2 separate regions of the Homo sapiens genome follow, and region 1 is linked to region 2. Evidence: fine-mapped expression QTL. Tissue or cell type: whole blood. Region 2 holds a variant in brackets; the other region holds the start of a gene. All regions are shown on one strand. Distances are between the middles of the regions.

Evidence for each region. PIP is the estimated chance that this variant, and not a neighbour inherited with it, causes the effect.
Region 1: it holds the start of CYB5R4, and the variant in region 2 is fine-mapped to the expression of CYB5R4 in whole blood (INTERVAL, PIP above 0.99).

The regions. Positions count from the first base shown.
Region 1 is chr6:83,854,958-83,863,049 of GRCh38, reverse strand. It overlaps CYB5R4 (cytochrome b5 reductase 4), which reads right to left and starts at 3,361. Exons shown (of 16, transcript NM_016230.4): 1 at 3,193-3,361. The coding sequence starts at 3,267. RIPPLY2 (ripply transcriptional repressor 2) reads right to left here. Exons shown (of 4, transcript NM_001009994.3): 4 at 5,535-5,808. The coding sequence ends at 5,661. The region is part of intron 3 of RIPPLY2-CYB5R4 (RIPPLY2-CYB5R4 readthrough); the gene reads right to left. RefSeq lists a silencer at 3,241-3,290.
Region 2 is chr6:83,536,500-83,544,608 of GRCh38, reverse strand. No RefSeq gene overlaps it. Among named protein-coding and RNA genes, the nearest start is that of PRSS35, 28 kb to the right of the region's middle. The variant C/TC (reference allele first, on the strand shown) is at 4,240.

The DNA.
Region 1 (8,092 bases), 320 kb before region 2:
TTGTAACGTAGTAACAGAAGAATGTTTAATGTAAAAGCAGACACATTCAAGGATGTTTACATATCTCACTTTCCTGAATCATATCTATTTTAGACATCCATTTACTCCCAAAGTAACCAAGTTAATAGGTCTGTGGTGCCTTTCACATTCTATCCTATCAATCTACATCATTCCATTCTGGCTATCACTGAAACTCTAGGTCTCTTGATCCCAATAAATGAAGTGTGAGAAAATGACCTTTCCCATCCCAAACTAAAATCACTCACCTCTCTCCATTCCATAATCCACAGGATAGTTAAAGCAATCTTTCAGAAATGCAAATCTAATCACAGGCTCTCCCTCCTTCAGTGGCTCCTCAGGTCACCTTACAACAACGTCTCTAAATTCCCTAGGGATTTACCAGGTCTTCACAATCTGGTCACAGTTGACTGTACTAGCTCCATGTTCTAACTTTTGCTCCTTTCCATTATATACTTTAGCCAAATGGGAACTGATTATTTGATTCCTTTATTGCTGTCAAGTACTTGCTTATAGTAGTGTTGCTTTCCCTGCATGGATCAACCTCACTCCAACTCCCATTAATTCCTCTGGAAGGCTTCTCTGATCCTCAACTCCTTAGTGGTCATACCACCCTGTTGTAGTACTTATGACTTTATAACTGAATGTTCACTATTTCATGCAACCTATGAGACTAAACACCTTGAAATCAGAGACCAAAAACTCCAGCATATGGTAGGTTCTCAATAAGTATTTGTTTACCAGTATTAATAGAAATAATAACTATCATATGTTGAGTGCATATTCTGTGTCACACTCAAGTCTGTGAGATCTGAATAAAAGCCTCAGGACAAGTAGCATTTACTGGGTGCTTACCAAGGCTGTGCTAAGAGAAACATTATCTCATTGAATCCTATGAACAATCCTATAAAATGGGTACTGTTATTCTCATTTACATCTGAGGAAACAGACTCAAAGAGATTAACTGGCAGATATGGTGAAAGAATCTAGGTCTTTCTCACTTCAAAATCTGTGCCTTTAAAAAATTACAATAAGCCTTCACTTAAGCTAGTCACTAGGTGCTTGGAAACTAAACTATGTACAACGAAACTAATTTTACCGTGGGTTAATTGACAAACAAAATTTCCTGCAGCATATTTCTGGTCACAAAAACATCACCAGACTTCTAAATAAAGACCAAAATACTTCTAATATTAAACACTGAAAGAAATGTTAGCTATATATACATTTAAGAAAGATTAATTAAAAAACAAGTAAGATAATTATTTACCCAACTATTCCAGTTCAATGTCACAGGTAGTCAGAGCCTATCCCAGTAGCTCAGGGCACAAGGCAGGAACCGACCTTGGACAGGATGCCATCCTATGGCAAGGCACACTCATACACACCCAATATTCACACAGACTGGGACCATTTAGACACACCAATTAACCTAACTTGCATATCTTTGGGCTGTAGCAGGAAACCAGAGTACCCAGAGAAAACCCACGCAGACACAGAGCATGCAAACTCCAAAGACAGTGGCCCTGGCCAAAACGAATTTTTTTTCTCATCAATATTATAACTAAATGCTGTTGAATGAAACAACACTATTTGAGAACCTTTTGTATAATACACGACCTTCCCAACTTGGTTCTATTTTCTCAACCTCTACCCATTTCATCCAAACCTGACTCAGTTTTTACATTCTCAGCATCATCTTGTTTCACAAAGAAAAGAGGAAGAAGACTGGAGTCTGACTTTTCCTTAGAATTGCACAATAATCTTATTTTGTTCTCTTTTTGGACCAAAAACTCACCTTTGCCATCGCCCCCTGTGTGACTTTTTGTCTTTGCTTCTAAGTTTTCTCCTTTAAATGGATGCTAAGAACACAGTTGGTATTTTTAACGAAGAAGGGCAGTAACTCATATTCTAATTCAGAGATTCTTTCTGGAAAGACTGTTATTCAGTCAAGTATTTAGCTTCAAGAAATAGGTCAAAAACCAATGAGAAAAATATACATGATTGGATGGCTAGATGATTGATATATGAATCAGTAAATGAAATTTCACAGCAGAACCACAACACAAGCCTACGCAATTTAGGGCAATATTTCTTAGCCAGTTTCCTTTTCTGCGAAATAGAGACAATAAAAGCTTTCACTTCAAAGGATAATTGTGAAAATTAAAGTTAATACATGCAAAGCACTGAGAATATACACGGCCACCCGTAAGTACTTAAGAAATCTCTGGAAAGCTAATGAAAACCACAGATCCCTGAACCTATATTCATTCTGAACTAGAATCAGAACGCCAGGTCTAAGTGGAGAAAAATAAGAAAATCGATAAGGGTTCCAAACGATGCTAAGACTCAAGAGTTAACCGAGTGGCCCAAGTTAAGTGGAAGTGTCACAAACGAAAGATAAAGATATGGTTACAGAATGAGGAACTAACAAATAGGAACAAACAACATTCGCAAAAGAACAAAGAACACAATTTTTATTGAATTCTGCAAATATAAAATATATCTGTACAGTATTCCACCTGTTGCTAACAGCAACTGTGCTCAACAAGAACTCAAGAGTATTATTATATTTGCTTCGAAGTTAGCAAGTGATACTAGTAGAAAAGGCAATGACAAAACAATCAGGTACCAGAGGAAGAAAGAAAGGCAGTATGTCTTGGATAGTGTCTGTAAACCTGACCTAGCTCCCCAACTCCAGAAGTCCCCATCCTTGCACGGACGGTCACTGTCGCCACTGCCAAGCCTTTCCCTCCTGCGAGGGAACCCACATCGAGTGATGTGGTACAACTCCTTCAGGCAGTGAAGAACAAAAGACCAGGGAGAAGATGAGGTTGAGGGAAGGCGGCTAATACCGAGAGCCTATAATACCGCAAACACAGTGCCTGGCTCTGTCATATAAATTTAAATCGCGGGAAAGGACTTGGAGGAAGGGAACGGATAGAGCGGGATAAAGGACCAGAAAGAAGAGGGACTGCTAGGGGAAAGGGAGGAGGTAAGGAGAGTTTAGGGACTGTAGACAAAGTGGGATCAGAAAGAGGTTGCAGGCAAGGACAGCAGGGAACGACAGCTTAGAGAGGGGTGCAGGAGCTGGGAGTTGGGGCGGAAGAAGAGAACACACTGCCAGAGCTCGAAACGCAGCGAGGGGAGAGACTCACGGAGCCACCCGCTTACCTTGCTACGCCCCCCGGAGGCGACACGCTGCTGCGACCTGGGGGCCGGGAAAGACTGGGAAGGGACGTTCAGCATCTTCAAACCCCGGCCCCGGGCCCTGCCCGGGGATCGCCGCCAGACGGGACAGCACCTCCAGCTCCGGCTCTGTGGCCGGGCAGAGGCCAAGCCCCCGACCCACTTCCGGGGTCGCCAGGGGTGAGGCGCATTCTGACGCAGCACGTCCGCGGAGGGCGGAGCCAACGGGACGGAGGGAGGGCCGGCAGGGAGGAAGTACGCATGCTCAGCTAGTTCCGCATCCCGAACTTCAGCACCGGAGCAAGGTGACAGCTATTTCGTGGAAAGATTAGAGAGTGAAGCTGTTCCTTAGCCTTGGTGCTGACCGAATGTGGGAACAAATTCTTAGTCCTGTTAACCCGGAACAGCAATGTCTGTTCATTGTTAAGCAGTACCATCACACTACTTGAAATATGGACTAAAACACACTACTTGAAATATGGACTAAAACGAATTTTAGTTTCTCTGAAATTCTTTCCTGTAAGGCACTAGGCTGTAATGCAAAGAGCATCTCACACCTTTAAGAGCAAAAATATCAAATGTCAACAGCCACTACTGTGGGGTAAGAAGAAAACCTCACCTTTAATCATCCTTAAACTTCACCTTTAAGCATGCTGAGGGCTAATGAATGCGCGAAAGACGTTAGTAAAGTCACCTTCTGCTCTATTCACCCACTCACAAATTCTCCCTCCTTATGTAACTTCCTGTCTTCACTGGGAATTGTGTACTGATGCAGCTCACCTCCAGCTGTGGTGATGAAGTAACGTTTAAAAGTCAGATTTGGTTTGCATGCCATCCCTGCACTTAATGACTGAGCTGTCTTATGCAAGTTACTTTAGTATCTCAAAGTCTCATTTTCCCCATCTGCATAATGGGTTTATTAAAGATTAAAGGATCATGTGTAAACTACATACTGCAGTGCCTGATTAATATTAGGTACTGAATAAGTGGCAGTGGCTGTTTGTGCTATTCCAACATATTAATGGGAAAAGGACCAACACTGTGCAGGTAAACACCAGGCTCTAATGCTCAAAATCTGATGGTTTTTGTTTGTTTGATTGATTGTTTTGTGTGTCCCTTGGGGAACACATAGATCTTGAGAGTAGAATCCAATAAGGGAGAAAGTTTTCAGGAGAAGAAACATAGTTCTAAATAATCCTCCCCATCCTCCTTTAATTACTAATTTTTCCTAACTCTGAACATATTGTCATGCTTTAAACTTTCTCTGTTTAACTACTTAGTTCTTAAAGTGCCTAAAAAATCAAGGTTATGTTTGCAGAATCAGAAGAAAAAGTGTGTGACTATATGTGGCCATTCAAATACAAGCATTCAAATAAGGTAGCCACCTATGACATTCACCTCTATCCATTTTTATTTGCAATTGAAATGCTTATTATGAGAAGACTGAATTTGAGCTAAAAGAACCTCATGACTATAATTAACTGTATTACTTTGACTTTGCAAATTGCTTCTGTGTTCTCTCTCATTAAATGATGACATATTCTTCTAGAGTCTACACAAGAAAAACTAATCACTGAGATTTATTTCACTTCTCGTGAGAAAACTTTTACATAAGAATATCAAAAGCAGAGAACCAGAGCAAGGAAAAGTTAATATTGTTGAAGAATGTTCCATGCTTTCCAAATTTCTTAGCTCCCCTTTGTACAGAAATGGAAGATGCTATCAACTTCTGGCCTTTAGACTCCACTTTTTTAGACTCCATATCAATCACTCAAATTTAAACGTTTTGTTTTAATTCTAGGGATCCCTCAATGTAGTACATTAAGTATTAAACATCCATACTATTTTACTACTGGATTTAAGGACTGAAGAGGAGTATTAAAATATGAGTTACTTTGCTCATCATTTATTTAAAATATCTATAATTTAAAAGCCCTAAGATTGATTCCCTTTTTCAATTACAGGTAATGATTTAATGTGTTTTTCTCCATCTGCTAAGAAATCTTTACTAATAAATGAGTGATTTCTAACATAAGTCTATTTTCTTCATTATCTAATAAGATAACATTGATATGTAACTACAACATCCAACTGGCATCAGTAGGAAATAGCAGATGTTAAAAGATTCAGTCTTGAGAATTAAATACTGTCATTCTTTGCAAAATTATAACTAAATATAAATGTGCAATTTAACGAAAAGAAAAATGTATTCTTTGTAAGCCCCAAATATTTATAATACAATCAAGACATTTGTAGATGGCACCTGTTTTAGATTCCAACATTCAATTCTAGTGTAGGGATAAAGAAAAGGCCAAATACCAGAATAATTACAAAATATTTCATTTTATTAATAATTTATATACAAATAAATTAGTTTAAAATAATTATGATACATTTGTACACTAAATTTAAACCCCACAAGCTTTGGATATAATCAAAAGTAGCTAATCAGATTAATTTTCACAGGTCAGATCCTCAATTTCATCTTCGCTATCAGAATCTTCATAAAATGAAATTGTGGCTTGAATTGGAAAATTTTTCAGAAGAGCTTCTGCTTCTTGATATAAGTAATCATAACATTTTGATTTTGGCCAAAATAGTCTGAAAGAAGCAGACAACATGTTTTATTTTTTCACATTCAGGATCTTTAAACTCATGAAATGGTCAAATTTCAAGAGCTCCATATATTTAACAATTGACTTATACATTTGGATATAGCCTTAAGATACAGAGTTAAAATATGCTACTATCACAGCCTTCATGGAATCTACCTGCCCAAGTATCAATAATTGTTTGATTATTGTAAATCTTTATTCAAGCTGTAAATTGGATCAAACAAATTTACACTAAACCCTGGATATGCATAAGATCAATGTTTACCTTACTTTGTACATTATGGATATATTTATTCTTATAATATATAGAAGATTTGTCTTCCAGTTTCTAAATTCCTTTGGAAAAAATGAATTGAGTTCTACCACTACATTAAAAACTTTAATGATAGCCAGCTTTATAAAGATGACAAAATATTATGCACCTTACAAAAAGGTGGAAATAACCTATTATCTTATTTAAAACTCACAGATTTAACTCTTATAGAAGTAGACAACGTAAGTTTAAAAATGTATAAAAACCAGTATTTTAAAATTTTTGTCTATGCACTCACAACTTGAGGCATAGAAAGACTACTTCTGACCTCAACTTTGATTCTATGTGCCTGTCTTCTCCCCATTCAACTAAATTTGTGAATATCATATGAAATGTTGAGAAATTATATATGTTTTATACAAATAACTGGCATGTAAGTATTATTACCTCAGAATTTCAAAAATCTGACAAATACTAATCTTGCCTTCTGGTCTTCATCAAGGAAAAGAAAGAGGAGAGATAAGGCTGAATCACCAAGTACAGTGCAGTCATTTTAGTGCAGGGTAAACAGCCCATATATCCATACAATGGAGTCATCCCAACAAATGGAAGATTACATTATGTTCAGTATGCTCCACTTTAAAAGGCAGAAAAACAAACAATGCAGTTTATAAATGTTTCCAGCAAAAATCATAAAAAAAGTTTATATTTTTGATGCTTAAACAAGTAACTATCAATTATTCAGTCGTTCAATAAATATTTTAGTGATCCCTTGTGCCAACATAATTCACAATTTAAAGATGAATAAATCATGGTCCCTACCCTCAAAAAGTTGACAGCTGAATAAAAAGAATAAAACACACCATATTAGTCAAGATATAAATGAATAAAAATAAAATATAAGAGAACAATTAAATTGTAACCGTACTTCAGAAAAGAAAGGAATTTCTTATATAAGAAACAATTTATTTCCTAATGCGTAACTGGAACTGGCAAACCCAAAGAATGCTAGTCATTATGATACTCTGTCCAGAATTTCTCACTGTGGGCCATTTTTCTCCCAGGGCCCGCATACTTTTCTGAGTTTCTTCCTGTTCTGATTCTTCTCCGTCTCCTTGTGGACCTCTCTTTCTCTGTGTACTGGTTAGATGCTGGCCTTCCCTCAGGTTTTCATTGAGAACATCAGCCCTCCCTCTAAACAAACTAGGATGACCTGGCCCACTGTCATGATTTCCCCACCCTACATTTACCATGGACTCCCAAGTCTGTATTTCCACTTAAGATCTTGACTCTGGGCCCCTAACTTACGTACGCAGTTCTCTACAGGATATCACTCTTTGGATGCCCCATAGGCACATTAAATATGATAAGTGGAAAACTTGACTCATGATCTCACCTCCCAAATCTGTTTTCGGCCCTAATTTACATTCTTTTAGTACAGCATTCACCTGCTCACCAGCCACAAACTTAGGAGCCATTCTGGCCTTTTACCTCTTCTTCACCTAACATATCCAATACGTTATAAAGCCTAATCTATTTTGTCATTCAAGTATTTCCTAGATTCACCCAGTCTCACCCTCACTTCCACTGTCTTACAATGGTTCATCATTATTTCTTACCTGAAAAATTGCAGAACTTCCAGTTTTACTTTTGATGCCCTGACTAAGCCTATTTAACATATAACCCCCAAGACTACCTTCGGAATAAAGCCCATGGGTTCCCAACACTACATACAGGATCAGGACAGAACTCTGTACAAGAGTGTGCAAGATTTGGCCTCTGATTACCCTGCTAAAATGACCACAACTTCACACACCTAAACTCCTTGGAGTTCCCGCAAGGAGCCACACCGTTTCATGATCCTGCTTCTCTTTTCCAATGCTATTTCTTTTGCTCCCACTTCCCATTCATCTGACTAACTTTTCCAAGACTCAGCCAGGTAACCACAACTTATAATATACACTTCCCTGACCCTTCCCCCTACCACTGACAGATTTAGGCACTTCGTGCCCTGCCC
Region 2 (8,109 bases):
CTGAAGCTTGTGCATTCACCAGAATCTCTGGGACACATTTAAAGCAGTGTGTAGAGGGAAATTTATAGCACTAAATGCCCACAAGAGAAAGCAGGAAAGATCTAAAATTAACACCCTGACATCAAAATTAAAAGAACTAGAGAAGCAAGAGCAAAGAAATTCAAAAGCTAGCAGAAGGCAACTAAGATCAGAGCAGAACTGAAGGAGATAGAGACACAAAAACTCTTCAAAATATCAATGAATCCAAGACCTGGTTTTTTGAAAAAATCAACAAAATTGATAGACCGCTAGCAAGACTAATAAAGAAGAAAAGAGAGAAGAATCAAACAGACACAATAAAAAATGATAAAGGGGATATCACCACCAATCCCACAGGAATACAAACTACCATCAGAGAATACTATAAACACCTCTACACAAATAAACTAGAAAATCTAGAAGAAATAGACAAATTTCTGGACACATACACCCTTCCAGGACTAAACCAGGAAGAAGTTGAATCTCTGAATAGACCAATAACAGGCTCTGAAGTTGAGGCAATAATTAGTAGCTTAATAACCAAAAGAAGTCCAGGAGCAGACGGATTCACAGCCGAATTCTACCAGAGGTACAAGGAGGAGCTGTTACTATTCCTTCTGAAACTATTCCAATCACTAGAAAAAGAGGGAATCCTCCCTAACTCATTTTATGAGGCCAGCATCATCCTCATATCAAAGCCTGGCAGAGACACAACAAAAAAAGAGAATTTTAGACAACTATCCCTGATGAACATCAATGCAAAAATCCTCAATAAAATACTGGCAAACCAAATCCAGCAGCACATCAAAAAGCTTATCCACCATGATCAAGCGGGCTTCATCCCTGGGATCAAGGCTGGTTCAACATATGCAAATCAATAAACATAATCCAGCATATAAACGGAACCAAAGACAAAAACCACATGATTATCTCAATAGATGCAGCAAAGGCCTTTGACAAAATTCAACAGCATTCATGCTAAAAACTCTCAATCAATTAGGTATTGATGGGACGTATCTCAAAATAATAAGAGCTATTTATGACAAACCCACAGCCAGTATCATACTGAATGGGCAAAAATTGGAAGCATTCCTTTTGAAAACTGGCAAAGACAGGGATGCCCTCTCTCACCACTCTTATTCAACATAGTGTTGGAAGTTCTGGCCAGGGCAATCAGGCAGGAGAAAGAAATAAAGGTATTCAATTAGGAAAAGAGGAAGTCAAATTGTCCCTGTTTGCAGATGACATGATTGTATATCTAGAAAACCCCATCGTCTCAGCCCAAAATCTCCTTAAGCTGATAGGCAACTTCAGCATAGTCTCAGGATATCAAATCAATGTGCAAAAATCACAAGCATTGTTATACATCAATAACAGACAAACAGAGAGCCAAATCATGAGTGAACTCCCATTCACAATTGCTTCAAAGAGAATAAAATACCTACGAATCCAACTTACAAGGGATATGAAGGACCTCTTCAAGGAGAACTACAAACCACTGCTCAATGAAATAAAAGGATACAAACAAATGGAAGAACATTCCATGCTCACGGGTAGGAAGAATCAATATGGACAAAATGGCCATACTGCCCAAGGTAATTTATAGATTCAATGCCATCCCCATCAAGCTACCAATGACTTTCTTCACAGAATTGGAAAAAACTAAAGTTCATATGGAACCAAAAAAGAGCTCGCATTGCCAAGTCAATCCTAAGACAAAAGAGCAAAGCTGGAGGCATCCTGCTACCTGACTTCAAACTATACTACAAGGCAATGGTAACCAAAACAGCATGGTACTGGTACCAAAACAGAATCACAGACAAATGAACAGAACAGAACCCTCAGAAATAATACCACACATCTACAACCATCTGATCTTTGACAAACCTGACAAAAACAAGAAATGGGGAAAGGAATCCTTGTTTAACAAATGGTGCTAGGAAAACTGGCTAGCCATATGTAGAAAGCTGAAACTGGATCCCTTCCTTACACCTTATACAAAAATTAATTCAAGATGGATTAAAGACTTAAATGTTAGACCTAAAACCATAAAAACCCTAGAACAAAATCTAGGCAATACCATTCAGGACATAGGCATGGGCAAGGACTTCATGTCTAAAACACCAAAAGCAATGGCAACAAAAGCCAAAATTGACCAATGCGATCTTATTAAACTAAAGAGCTTCTGCACAGCAAAGGAAACTACCATCAGAGTGAACAGGCAACCTACAGAATGGGAGAAAATTTTTGCAATCTACTCATATGACAAAGGGCTAATATCCAGAATCTACAAAGAACTCAAACAAATTTACAAGAAAAAAACAACCCCATCATCAAGTGGGCGAAGGATATGAACAGACGCTTCTCAAAAGAAGACATTTATGCAGCCAAAAGACACACAAAAAAAGCTCATCATCACTGGCCATCAGAGAAATGCAAATCAAAACCGCAATGAGATACCATCTCACACCAATTAGAATGGCAATCATTAAAAAGTCAGGAAACAACAGGTGCTGGAGAGGATGTGGAGAAATAGGAGGAACACTTTTACACTGTTGGTGGGACTGTAAACTAGTTCAACCATTGTGGAAGTCAGTGTGGTGATTCCTCAGGGATCTAGAACTAGAAATACCATTTGACCCAGCCATCCCATTACTGGGTATATACCCAAAGGATTATAAATCATGCTGCTATAAAGACACATGCACACGTATGTTTATTGTGGCACTATTCACAATAGCAAAGACTTGGAACCAACCCAAATGTCCAACAATGATAGACTGGATTAAGAAAATGTGGCACATATACACCATGGAATACTATGCAGTGATAAAAAATGATGAGTTCATGTCCTTTGTAGGGACATGGATGAAGCTGGAAACCATCATTCTTAGCAAACTATCGCAGGGTAAAAAAACCAAACACCGCATGTTCTCACTCATAGGTGGGAATTGAACAATAAGAACACTTGGACACAAGAAGGGGAACATCAACACCGGGGCCTGTTGTGGGCTGGGGGGAGTGGGGAGGGATAGCATTAGGAGATACACCTAATGTAAATGACGAGTTAATGGGTGCAGCACACCAACATGGCACATGTATACATATGTAACAAACCTGCACGTTGTGCACATGTACCCTAGAACTTAAAGTATAATAAAAGTATATTTTTAAAAAAGACTTATTTTTCCCCTGTAATTGAAACTTTGTACCCTTTGACCAACATCTCCCCATCCTCACCTCCCGCCCCACCCAGGCCCGGTAGTCACCATTCTACTCTCTGCTTCTATGAGTTTGACCTTTTTAGATTTCACATATAGGTGAGATGATTCAGAATTTTTATTTCTGTGCCTAGTGTATTTCAGTTAACATATTGTCTTCCAGGTTCAACCATGTTGTCTCAAATGACAGAATATCCTTCTTTTTAAGACTAAATAGTATTCCACTGTGTATACATACACACCATATTTTCTGTGTCTGTTTATTCACTGATGGACAGTTAGTTTGATTCCATGTCTTGGCTATTGTGAATAGTGCTCCAGTGAACATAGGAGTACTGATATCTCTTCAACACTGATTTCAAATCCTTTGCATATATATCCAGAAGCAAGACAACTAGATCATTTGGTAGTTCTCCTTTATTAGAGTTTTGATAGCTGTGTATAGTATAATAGAAGAGCTTACACTAATTGACACCCCATCTTGAAGATTTGAATCATTTCATGTATGTTGTAATGATTGTAAAGGTGGTTCTCTCAGTATTTGTCTCCCTTCTCCAGCCTCGGTGACAGAGCAAGACTCCATCTCAAAAAAAAAATTGTCTCTCCTTTGTTCTCTTTTATGTTATTTACTGCACTTTTTTAAAAAAGGATAGACTCGAGACTTTGGAAGGAGTACTGAGGTTCAGAAGAAGGGGAAAGGTGGGGACATGTACAAAGAAATGAGAACTCGATGCACCGAAAGATAAATTTGTGCAAAGGCTTCTTTCTGACCCTTAAATAGACATCTTTAACAAAAGATGCCCACAATTTTGTTGATGGAAAAAGGCATGGTCTTGCAGCAGTGATTACATGTGGTTTGTGTAGAAGCACTTGTTGGAAATCAAAATAAGTGCGTATATTAGTTGAAGAGTCACATTGACCTATATTTTTGAAGCAAAATGTCTTGTTTGTTCTATTTAAAATATTTTGTTTTTTGTTAATCCTCTTGGGTTTTTTTTTT[C/TC]TGGTTAGAAAAATCATTTAGTTTTATTTTTATTTTTTGAGGGGAAATAAATTTGTTGGTTTATGTTAAAAGATAAAGAAATTATTTTAAAACATATTAATATATGTCTTTAAGTTTATAAATCAATTTGAATTTTTCCTAGGCACAAATTCTTACAGATCAAATAATCACATAATAATAAAATTGAGCTCTTGATGAGAAGACAAGCTACAAGACATTGTCATAACTTTGGACAAAACAGATAATAGTCTTGTCTACATACAAACTAACCCATAAGATGATATGTGTTGTTTTCTTAGGATATTTCTTTTTTTAATTATACTTTAAGTTTTAGGGTACATGTGCACAACGTGCAGGTTTGTTACATATGTATACATGTGCCATGTTAGTCTGCTGCACCTTGCGTTTTAAGGAAATTTGTTTCTCATAGCCTGGTTGACAGCAGATTTCATCTCTGGATACATCATCCAGATGTCATCTGTAATGAGACATATGAGGGAGTGATGTTTTGTGATTTAGTGATATAGTGGTTAACCTTAGCTAAACTCTCACGTTAATTTAATTCTGTGAATTAATTTCCACTCATCGCATACACATTCAATTTTGAAACATAAAAGTTTTCTATAATTGATTCACAGAGCAGAGTTTTCAAACTGTTTAGTGTCAGGACCCCTTTACACTCTTAAAATCTATTGAGGCTCCTCCAAAAGCTTTTATGTAGGTGGGTTATGTCTGTCAATATTTACTGTGTTAGAAAATAAAACTGAAATTCTTTTACATTTGTTTAATTTTTATTTATGTATTAGATTGGTGCAAAAGTAATTGCTGGTTTTGCTATTAAAAGTAATGTAGTAAAAGTGGCCGAACGCAGTGGCTCATGCCTGTATTCAATCCCAGCACTTTGGGAGACTGAGGTGGGCAGATCACTTGAGGTCAGGAGTCCAAGACCAACCTGGGCAACATGGTGAAATCCCATCTCTACTAAAAATACAAAAATTAGCCTGGCATGGCGGCATGTTTATCATGCTATAATGTCAGCTACTTGGGGCTGGGGCAGGAGAATCACTTGAACCTGGCAGGCAGAGGTTGCAGTGAGCCGAATCATGTGACTGCACTCCAGCCTGGGCAACAAAGTGAGACTCTGTCTCAAAATAATGTAGTAAAAGTAAAAATATAAATATTAAAACCACTATATATTAAATAAAATATTTTATGAAAAATACTACTCTTTGCTTCTATGAGTGTGACTTTTTTAGATTTCACATATAGGTGAAATCTTAGAAACTTAAAAAAGTGGTCCCGTTTTGCCATTTTTGCAAATCTCTTTAATTTTAGACTTAACAGAAGACAGCTGCATTCTCATATCTGCTTCTGCATTCAACATGTTACAATAGCCCATGTCAGGTAGTTATTGGAAAATTCTGTTGTGAGCACACTTGTGGGAAAGTGAGTGTCTTAGTATTACTGTGAAGACAGTTTTGACATGGACGTTCTGAAAGGTTCTCTGGCATCCTTAGGAGTCCCCTGACCACACTGGAGGATGGGTGCTCCAGCTGGGAAATGGGCTGGCATGGCATGAGAAGCATCCATCGCAGAGATTAAACTCCATTTCTTGGAGACTCCTTACGCAGTTTCCAATATCCAGTGACACTTTCTAAGAACATAAAGATGCTGATGGATGCTTTTGGCCAATGATAAAATTTAAAGTGTTTCTACTTGGAGATCAAAAATATTAACAAACATACTTTGTGAATTGACGATGACTTTTTTAAAGAAAAAATATTTAGTAATGGATTAGACTGAGATGGAAGATGATATTGAACATAAGAATATTGAGAGTGAACACAGTAGTGTGGTGCAGGTTGCAACCATCAGGGCTGGAGGAGGGTGAAAATTTTTAGCAAAAGCCTATGACTACAAGAGACTGTAGCCTAGAACAGCACCCAGGCCTGCAAACAGTAGCCCCACAAAGCGGCAGGGCCTGGAGCGGTCCCCTTGCAATAAAGATAAAGGGAGACAGTCACCTCTTAGTGATCATTTTCTCTGGTGTTAAACCACCCTTTGATACTAAATTCATCTCCAGACACCCAACATCCTTGTGGTTCATCTTTCTTTTTCAGTGTATGAAACATCTTTGGGGTAAGTTAACTACTTTTATAATTTGTAGCGGTATCTGTAAACCAGAACCCACAATGGTCTGAAAAGTCTTATAAATGTGTCCCAAGGAAAGTCGGAGTTATTTTTTAAATCATCCGTATTTTGGATCACGTGGATTTTGGCACTGTATTGAAAAACAGGAAATGCAGTTGTGACCATGCATGTAATATTTCAGATGTAAATTTAGGACCAGATTTTTAGAAAACCTGTCTCTTAGGGAAAAAAAATTAAGATTTAGAGATAAATTAAAAGGAACATTTTGTTTAGACCAGAAAAAGAAAGGTAGCTAGGTGTGGCAGCTCATGCCTACATGTAATCCCAGCACTTTGGGAGGCCAAGACAGGCAAATCACTTGAGCCCAGGAGTTCAGCACCATCCTGGGCAACTTGGCAAAACCCTGTCTCTAAAGAAAATGCAAAAATTATCCAGGCATAGTGGCATGCGTCTGTGGTACCAGCTACTCGGGAGGCTGAGGTGGGAGCATTGCTTGAGCCTGGCAGATTGAGGTTGCAGTGAGCCATAGTTTTATCACTGCACTCCAGCCTGGGTGACAGTAGGGACTCTTTCAGAAAGAAAGAACAAGGAAAGGAAGGAAGGAAGGAGAAAGAAATGAAAGAGAGAAAGGGAAGGAAGGAAGGAAGGAAGGAAGGAAGGAAGGAAGGAAGGAAAAAGAAAGAAAGAAAGAAGAAAAGAAAAGAAAGAGAGAAAGGGAGGGAGGGGAAGGAAGGAGAGAAAGAAAAGAAAGAGAAAGAAGCAGAGAGAAAAAGAAAAGGGAGGGAGGGAGGGAGAGAGGGGAAGGAAGGAGAGAGAGAAAGAACCAAAGAAAGAGAAAGAGAAGGAAGGAAGGAAAAGAAAGAGAAAAGAAGAGAGGGAGGGAGGGGAAGGAAGGAGAGAGAGAAAGAAAACAAAGAAGAAAAGAAAGAAAAAAGAGAAAGAAAAGAAAGGAAAGGAGGGAGGGAGGAAGGAGAGAGAAAAGAGAGAAAGGAAAGAAAGGAAGAAGGAAAGAGAGAAACAAAAGAGAAAGAAAAAGAAAGAAGGAAAGAAAAGAAAGAAGAAAGAAAAAGAGAAGGAAGGAAGGAGAAAGAGCAAAGTTAGAAAGTTAGAAAGAAAGAAGAAAAGGGAAAAAAAGAAAAAGAGGAAGGAATGAAGGAGAAAGGAAAGTTAGAAAGTCGGAAAGTCAAAAATCAGAAAGAAAAGAAAGAAAAAGAACGAACGAAAGAAAAAGAAGAAAGAGAAAGAAAGAAAAAGAAAGAAGGAAGAAGGGAGGAAGGAAGGAAAAAGAAAGAAAAGGAAGGAAAGAAAGAAAAAGAAGAAAGGAAAGAGAAAAAAGGTGTAGATGCTATTTGAGTTCAGAACAAAATATAGTTATATGACTTACTGGTTATGTTGTTAATTAATAGGTTAGTTCACTATAGAACCACGTTTTTTATTTAACTTTCTTGTCATTATTAAGGGTATTGTCAATGTTATTGATAAGTATCCTACAACACTTTTTAACATACATGTCTAAGAATGAACTCATTATCTTTTTCCCCAAGCCTAATCTTTCTGTCTTGGTCAGTGTTCTCACCATCTACCCAGTCTCCCAAACCAGAAGTTCAGGGAACAGAACACCCTCAACTCTTCTCTCCTGTATTCAAAGGCCACTAAGTATAGTAAACATTCAGCTCTCTAAATATCTCACAAGGTGTCCTCTCTTGCCTTTCTCTCTGC